3 separate regions of the Homo sapiens genome follow, and all the other regions are linked to region 3. The links come from fine-mapping of genetic effects on gene expression. A gene starts in region 3. Each other region holds a variant in brackets. All regions are shown on one strand. Distances are between the middles of the regions.

Region 1 (2,768 bases), 56 kb after region 3:
TACATTAATAAATTTGTATGCTTTTCTCCTATTAATCGGTCTTTTGTCACTTTATTTTCAGGGAACCTTCAGAAGGTGAACGGGATCCCTGTGCCCCTACAATTTGTTATTTTCATCTAGGATTTTTCTGTAATTAAAAAAAGTTTTTTGAAAAACAGGTGTCTATATTGTTTTACACTAAACTAAAACTGAAGTAACTAACAAGTACAATTCACTGCAGGTACTCTCTTCATCTTGTAGTTCACGCTTAAGCACTGAACCTGTGCTAAGAAATGTGAGTATTCCTGTAGTCAAAGAGAGTCATCACTCAACCAACAAGCTACGTCCCTGTGAAAATTTTAGCATCTAATCATTAAATTGATTTAAAGCAAGAGAGATAGTATTGCTATTGTCTTATTAATGGAATGGTTTCAGTCATGTATGCTAATTTTCAATATTAGTACTTTTCAAGACTGGGAAACTCATTTGTTTTTCACTGAATGTGAATTTGAAAGGGTGAAATGAAATAAACTAAGAAAGGACAATCAAATTAATGTAAAAAAGGCAACAGTAATAAAAACAGTGTTCATACCAGTATTTAGCATAGTGCCTGGCAGATGATAGGTACTCCAAAATACTTTTTTTTTTAAAAAGATGGGGTCTTACTAGGTTGTCCAGGTTGGAATGCAGTGGCTATTCACAGGTGTGATCATTGTGCACTACTGCCTCAAACTCCTGAGCTCAAGCAATTCTCCTGTCTCAGCCTCCTGAGTAGCTGGGACTACAGGTGCAGCCACTGCACCTGGCTTCCCAAAATTCTTCTTGAATGAATGAATATTGAATGAATGAATGTTCCTTAATTCTAGGTACATCAAAAGCAGTGTGAATTGGTGCACATGATTTTAGATGTTAGGCTGTTTCAATATTACACAGAAACTAAGTCTCCACATGATAACCCTAGTGTTTTCCCTAAAACAACAAACCATTAAGTTGAAGTACCAACTGTTTCTTCTCATCTTCATGATCATTTAAAATATCTGGCTCTTTTCCTCTCTTTTATGCATCATAATTTTTCAAATGTTTTTCTATTCTGTGTCTACTGGAGGTTGTTAATGTTGTTATGACTGTTAATTCTTCTTTATAGAGTTATAGAAGGATCTCATAAAAAGTAATATTGGTGTGTAAATAAGATGCAAGAAGCAATGACCTTCATTTTTCTATTCAATAGAAAGGAGATAAAATAATGAGTAATAAAATCCTTCTAGAAATTCTGATTCTTTTTTGATCAACTTGATACAGGTCAGGTAGAAGTGGTCTCCTGACAGAAGTAATAGTCTTTTTCAATCCAGTGGAGAAAGCCTATGTG[C/T]TCCCAATAACCCCACTTAGTTTTGTTGATATTTGAGCATTAGTGGGTAAGTTGTGGTTAAATATCACCTTGTTTTTTCTTACTAGAAACTTAATGTTACATTTTTAACATTTAATGTTAATTTTATTTAATTTCAATTTAATTTTAATGTTATGTTGATAGAAGAGATAACACTTTATGGTTAAAATCTTGTTTAGGATCTGTATAATTTGATTTCACTTCTCAATCAGATGGATTCTATGAAGAGTTCAATCAAAAAGATAGGAGGTATGTTTCCATTTCTATTCAGAGTTTTAAGGAGAGAATCTTATCTTTTGGGGTTCCTCAACCCTTTTTGATAAATGGTAAAGGAACATTTTGAAAATGTTGTTGTACAGATATATTTGCAGATATATGGTGCAGATATAGTTGGTATTTCCTAAAAAATCAACTCATATAAATATTTGAGAGTCTGTTGTTTTGGTGAAACAATGGAACCATTATGTGATTGGTATTATGTAACTGAAGGTTTCAAATGGCTTCCTGCATTTACCAATAATTCACAAGGGATGCATTTAGGTATATTTTCTACCAAGCCCACAGCATTTTGGCTGAGATTTCCAAGTCAGGTGAATCTCTTCTATTGTTCACATTGGTGTCTATGCCAAAGAGGAGTGATTCAACAGAAAGGCAGTCTTGCAGCACATAGCTGCCAGGTTTCTGGATCATACCTATTTAAAAGATGTAAATTTGGGACCCAGTCAAGACACAAGAAAAAAAATGCAGGTTAATGAATGGCATAAATATTTATATTTTACCTATGTATGTAATACCTAAAACTAAAGCCCAAAGAGAAATGAAAATCAATAGAAAGTGAAAACAAATGAATCTGAACTTTCAGATTGTATTTTAATTCACTGCCTGATATGTTTAGACGACTGCATAGCATTCCCTCTTTTTTTTTGATGGAGTTTCACTCTTGTTGCCTGAGTTGAAGTGCAATGCCATGATCTCAGCTCACTGCAACCTCCACGTGCCAGGTTCAAGCGATTCTCCGTCCTCAGCCTCCCAAGTAGCTGGGATTACAGACATGCACCACCACACCTGGCTAATTTTGTATTTTTAGTAGAGGCGGGGTTTCACCATGTTGGTCAGGCAGGTCTGGAACTCCTGACCTCAGGTGATCCACCTGCCTTGGTCCCCCAAAGTGCTGGGATTACAGGCATGAGCCACCACGCCCGGCCTGCATAGCATTTTTTTTTTTTTTTTTTTTTTTTGAGACGGAGTCTGGTTCTGTCGCCCAGGCTGGACTGCAGTGGCGTGATCTCGGCTCACTGCAGGCTCTGCCTACCAGCTTTACGCCATTCTCCTGCCTCAGCCTCCCGAGTAGCTGGGACTACAGGCGCCCACCACCATGCCTGGCTAATTTTTTTGTATTTTTAGT
Region 2 (2,768 bases), 27 kb after region 3:
CATGTGGAACTGTAAGTCTAATTAAACCTCTTTTTGTTTCCAGTTTCGGGTGTGTCTTTATCAGCAGTGTGAAAATGAATTAATACATCATCACTAATCATCAGAGAAATGCAAATCAAAATCACAATGAAATATCATCTCATTCCAGTTAAAATGGTTTGTATCAAAAAGGCAATAACAAATGCTGGTAAAGATGTGGAGAAAGGGGAACCCTTGTACACTCTTGGTGGGAATGTAAACTAGTACAGCCAATATAGACAACAGTATGGAGCTTCCGCAAAAACTAAAAACAGAACTACCAGCAATTCTAATACTGAGTATATATACAAGAAAAAGGAGATCAATATATCAAAGAGATATCTGCATTCCCACATTAATTGCAGCACTATTCACAATAGCCAAAATATGGAATCAACCTAAGTGCCAATGGATGGATGAATGAATAAAGAAAATGTAGAATATACACATAATTATTCAGCCATAACAAACAATGAAATCCTGCCATTTGCAACATGGTTGGAACTAGAGGCTATTATGTTAAGTGAAATAAGCCAAGCACAGAAGGACAAATATCACATGTTCTCACTCATATGTGAGAACTAAAAGAGTGGATCTCATGAAGATAGAAGATTGTTGGTTACCAAAGGCCAGGAAGAGTGGGAGGGAGAAGGGTTTGAAGGGAAAAAAAGAATATAAATGGAGCCATTATCACTTAATTGTACACTTAAAAATGGTAAGAATGGTAAATTTTATATGTATATTTTATCTCAATAAAAACCCCACAAAATTGCAAAAATTATTACTTTGTAATTATAAGCATATACTAGCCTAGGGATTAGAAGGAATACATGGTGGTGGGTTGAGGAGAAAACTATGCCAAAGACGTGTCTAAGAGAGCAGTCTTAAAAAAGGATTTCTTAACCTTTGCATTGTCATTAGGGGTGGACAATTTTCTGTTGTGGGATGCTATCTTCCGCCTAGGATGTTTATTAGCAGTAATCCTGGTATTTACGTGCTAGATGCCAGTAACATCTCCCCTCAGCCCTCCACCCCTGCCCTGCCCTGATGTAATAACCAAAAATGTCTCTAGACATTGCTAAATATCTCCTGGGGGCAAAATTATTCAGGGCTGAGAACCACTAAGTTGGAGTCAGAAGAGTGAAACAATTTTAAAAATTAGCTGGGTGTGGTGGTGCATGTCTGTAGTTCCAGCTACTCAGCATTGCTTGAGCCCAGTAGTTTGAGGCTAGACTTGGCAACAGCTCTGCATGCTGTATAGAGGTAGAGACCCTGAAAAAAGAAAGAATGAAAGAACGAAAGAAAGCAAGAAAGAAAGAAAAAAGAAAAAAATTGATCTAATCTTGAAATGTGAAGGAGACATCTCACTGCACAGAAACATAGAGAACAACTGTTTGTAATAATTATTAGTTTAATATATATTTTCTTTGCTAGATTGTAAGATGCACGAGGACAGAGACTGTAACTCTTATTTTTATAATCAGATCATAATCTGAAAGTTAGTCGACAGGTGTTTATTGCATTGCTATGGGTCTATCAATGGGTTATGTGCATTTGAGGCAGGATAGGTAGTCAAGGAAGTGACCATGTTGCCAGGA[C/A]GCAGTGATCGTGGTGGCCATACAACCAACACAGGCCTCAGCGTTCGCAGTATAATTGAGCTCATTCAAGCAAAGCTATCTGCGGTGGGGACTTTTCCTTCTAGAGAGCATGTGCACTTGGATTTTACCAGTCCTCAAATTGGCGCTTTGCTCATTTCAATAGTGAAAAATACACTCCTGGGTGGAGATTTCAGATGCTAATGAGACACACGATGCATGAACAAGCATGTGCAGCTACTGTGCATGTGCACCCAGAGGACCACCCAGAACATACCTACTAGTAACGCCTCTTCCCACCTTCTTATGAATTATTATGTAAAACTCCCATAAAGGGAGTCTCCCTAGTGCCAGTCTTTGCTGGCTCATCCTTATGGGCAGCCCACCCTGAATCCTCTCTCTCTCAGGGTGTCCTGTCTATTCTGTACCTACCTTTCAAAATATTCTTTTTCTTTTGCAATAAATCACTGTATGCTGCACCTTCTTTGCCAGGTGCTCTTATTTAAATTCTTTTAAACTAAGGAGACAAGAACTGAGGTCTCACAGAAACCATCAATATTTTGGAAATAAAAGAGAGGATTTAGAACTGAGTCTGTTCTTAAAGTGCTTCATGGCTTATTTTCTAATTGCTTACTATACAGTAGCTCTTTTCTGTGCTACTAGATAACAAAACCTATAGTACTAAAAACCATGTTCTTTTTCAAAGAATGCAGAAAAGAGTATGAAGTAGAGGAAGTAGAGGAGGAAGTAGAATTAAAGTTGATTCTTGATGAATGGACTAGTTTTCAGTGGGTGGAAGAAAAAAATGAATGAGGGATTCCGGATGTGGTGAACAGCATAAGCAGAGCTATTCAGTTAGGAATTAAAATCATTTTGGTGTTGAGAGCAAGCAACTATTTTTTTTTCTCGAGTACTTACTATGTGTCAGTTACTCTGTTAACTGGTATGTATATATTATTTCATTTATAGGACTCAGCCAGTGAAGGCATGAAAGTGTTAGAATCATTTTAATGGACTTGATTCAAATGAGGGTGGGGAAGTATAAGTAAAAGTCAATCCAAGATATTGTCTCAGCTCCTGGAACAGTGGTTCCATTGATGGCATGGCTGCTTGGAAAAGTGGTCAAAATTTATTGGTAATAGGAATTTTCTTTTT
Region 3 (2,768 bases):
TGGCAGCACAACCCGACAGTGTCACCCCACACTATCAAAGCGGATCATTCGCAAAAAGCCTTTTTCAGCGACGAAAAGGGCATCAAGCATTTATCAGAAACACACACCTCCCCCAGAGCGTCTCTACAACACCCGATATCCTTAATCACTTTAAAGAATGATCAGAAAAGTTCAGGGGAAAACCAATTATGCAAATATCCTTGGAAAAAGAAGCAACTTCCCTCCGTCTCTTTTTCCACGCGTCTGTGAAATATTCAGCATTCCCAACGTAAAAATTATCTTTTTAAAACGGGAGGGCAGCAGCAGTCACTGGCCGAGGGGCACCCGCCGACCCCCCGCCCCACCCCGCCCAGCCCCACCAGCTCCGCACTTTCTTGAGCCCCGCACCCGAGTTCGGCGGAAGGTTGCTGCTCCCGGGGCTGGCACCGCGGGCGCCGGGCCCGCCACCGCCTCCTCCCAGACAGCCATTTTTACCCGCGGAGTAGGCGGCCCGGTCCCCAGAGCGGGCTCGTTCAAACCTCCTCCCCTCCCTCCGCAGCCCAGGGTTTCCCCGGCCTCCTGGGGGACGTGAGATGGACCTGCAGGGTAACAGCCTTTGTAGATCTCAGAATGGATCAGAATCATTTGTTACCGAACAAGCGATGATGCGGGCCCAAGCTGCATGGGTCCGGGCCGAGGGCGGGCCCGGGGCGAAGGGGGCTGGGCGGGTGGCGCCGCCGCTTGGGCGCCGGGAGGGTGGCAGCACGCGTGGGCGCGGCGAGGGCTGCCTTCTCCCTCGCCCTCCCGCCCCCAGGAGTCCGGCTCCCCGACGGCAGAGCGGCGGGGAAAGGGTGGGGGGAGGGAGCTGGAGGAAAAGAAGGGGTCGGCCGAGTCTCTTACCTTGCTCTCCGCTGGGAGTTGGGCGGGCTGGGTGGCCCGGGGAGGGGAAAAGGGTCGGGGGAGGGGGTGGGGAAAGGGGGGAGCCCTTGCGAGGTGTAGCTTCCGAGCAGCTCCCGCCGCCGCCACAGCCGGCGCCTCCTTTCCGATTCACTCAAACAAACAAGATGGCTGCCGTTACGCCGCGGCTCTTCCTGCCGCCCAAATCCTCGGTTCAAATCGGCAGGATGTTTACGGTCAAAATGGTACCTGTGCGCCTGCGCAGCCAGCCCAAGCCCCCCCCTCCCCCCAGAAGGAGCGGCGCAGGCGCAATGACTATTTCCTTTTCTTTGGAACCCGCCCTCTGTTTGTGGAGTCCACAACTGAGCAAGCGCAAAGGTGATTCTCTTGCGAGGGTCTTTGAGAGTTGCGGTGTTAGCCAATAGCGTAAGATAGCGCACGCGCAGTGCTTTCCAGTGCGGTGAATATTTGCGTTTAGCTTTATTCTTGTGCTTGTTTTAAAGAAAAAAGCTGTCGTGGTGCAATTTTGTGTGCCCCCACCAAAAAATTCATTTTATGGCTCTATAGGGATGAAAGTAACATAAAAACCTCAAACTAATTCCATAAAATATAGAGGTTCATTTATTCAGTCAACCTATATTATAGAGGGTCTTCTGTTTGCTACACGTTGGGCTCTGGATATAATGATTAATATAACAGAGATAATAACTGCCTTTTGGAAATTTTCAGTATTGCTTGGGAGGAATCTTAAAATTTCTTATCTTAAAAGACTTACTTGTACCACGAAGAAATTTACTTTTGTTTTTATTGTAGAGATCTTTCCAGTGATGAAAGAAATTGAAGAGGACACACAAAAATGGAAATATATTCCATGTTCATGGATTGGAAGAATCAATATTGTTAAAATTTCCATACTACCCAGAGCAATCTACAGATTCAATGTAATCCCTATCAAAATATCAATGACATTCTTCACAGAAAGAGGAAAAAAATCCTAAAATTTATATGGAACCACAATAAGACCAAGAATAGCCAAAGCAATCCTGAGCAAAAGAATAAAGCTGGAGGCATCACATTACCTGACTTCAAATTATACTACAAAGTGATAGTAAACAAAACAGCATGGTGCTGGCATAAAAACAGACACATAGACTAACGGAACAGAATAGAGGACCTATAAATAAATCAATACATATACAGTCAACTAATTTCTGACAAAGCTGCCAAGAACATACGTTGGGAAAAGGATGGTCTCTTCCAAAAATTGTTCTGGAAAAACTAGATAACTATATGTAGAAGAATGAAACAGATCACTATCTTTTGCCATATTAAAAAAATCAAAACAAAATGGCTTGAAGACTGGAATCTAAGATTTGAAACTATTGAAACTACTAGAAGAAAACGTTAGGGAAATGCTCCAGAACCAAATATTTCTTAGTAAGACCTTAAAAGCATAGGCAAGCAAAGCAAAAATGGACAAATGGGATCATGCCAAGCTAAGAACCTTCTGCAAAGCAAACAACAAAGTGAAGAGACAACCCATCAAGTGGGGGAAAATACTTGCAAACTACTCATCTATCACAGAATTAATAGCCATAATATATAAGGAGCTCAAACAATATAATAGGAAAATAATCCAATTAAAATTGAGCAAAAGACCTGAATGGTTATTTCTCAAAAAAGACATACAAATGGCCAACAGGGATATGAAAAAATGCTTAACATCACTAATCATCAGAGAAATGCATATCAAAACTAGGATGAGGTATAATCTCATCCCAGTTGAAATGGCTTTTATCCAAAATACAGGCAATAATGAATGCTGATAAAGATGTGGAGAAAGAGAAACACTCGTACACTGTTGGTAGGAATGTATGTTAGTACAGCACTGT

Direction of the effects. Alleles are on the strand shown, and positions count from the first base shown. SD is a standard deviation of normalised expression in the study named.
With allele T in place of C in region 1, the expression in fibroblasts of the gene that starts at base 1,045 in region 3 is lower (small effect, 0.10 SD a copy in GTEx).
With allele C in place of A in region 2, the expression in subcutaneous fat of the gene that starts at base 1,045 in region 3 is higher (small effect, 0.24 SD a copy in FUSION).

The links. PIP is the estimated chance that this variant, and not a neighbour inherited with it, causes the effect.
Region 1: its variant is the best candidate, but not a certain one, in a credible set for the expression of RAD21 in fibroblasts (GTEx, PIP 0.52).
Region 2: its variant is the best candidate, but not a certain one, in a credible set for the expression of RAD21 in subcutaneous fat (FUSION, PIP 0.51).

The regions. Positions count from the first base shown.
Region 1 is chr8:116,929,463-116,932,230 of GRCh38, forward strand. No RefSeq gene overlaps it. Among named protein-coding and RNA genes, the nearest start is that of AARD, 7.4 kb to the right of the region's middle. The variant C/T (reference allele first, on the strand shown) is at 1,346.
Region 2 is chr8:116,900,245-116,903,012 of GRCh38, forward strand. No RefSeq gene overlaps it. Among named protein-coding and RNA genes, the nearest start is that of MIR3610, 27 kb to the left of the region's middle. RefSeq lists enhancers at 1,543-1,632, 1,683-1,762. The variant C/A (reference allele first, on the strand shown) is at 1,617.
Region 3 is chr8:116,873,732-116,876,499 of GRCh38, forward strand. It overlaps RAD21 (RAD21 cohesin complex component), which reads right to left and starts at 1,045. Exons shown (of 14, transcript NM_006265.3): 1 at 880-1,045. RAD21-AS1 (RAD21 antisense RNA 1) reads left to right here and starts at 693. Exons shown (of 2, transcript NR_033886.1): 1 at 693-1,254; 2 at 1,690-2,768. MIR3610 (microRNA 3610) reads right to left here and starts at 1,069; the gene lies at 997-1,069. RefSeq lists silencers at 353-402, 563-882 and an enhancer at 993-1,042.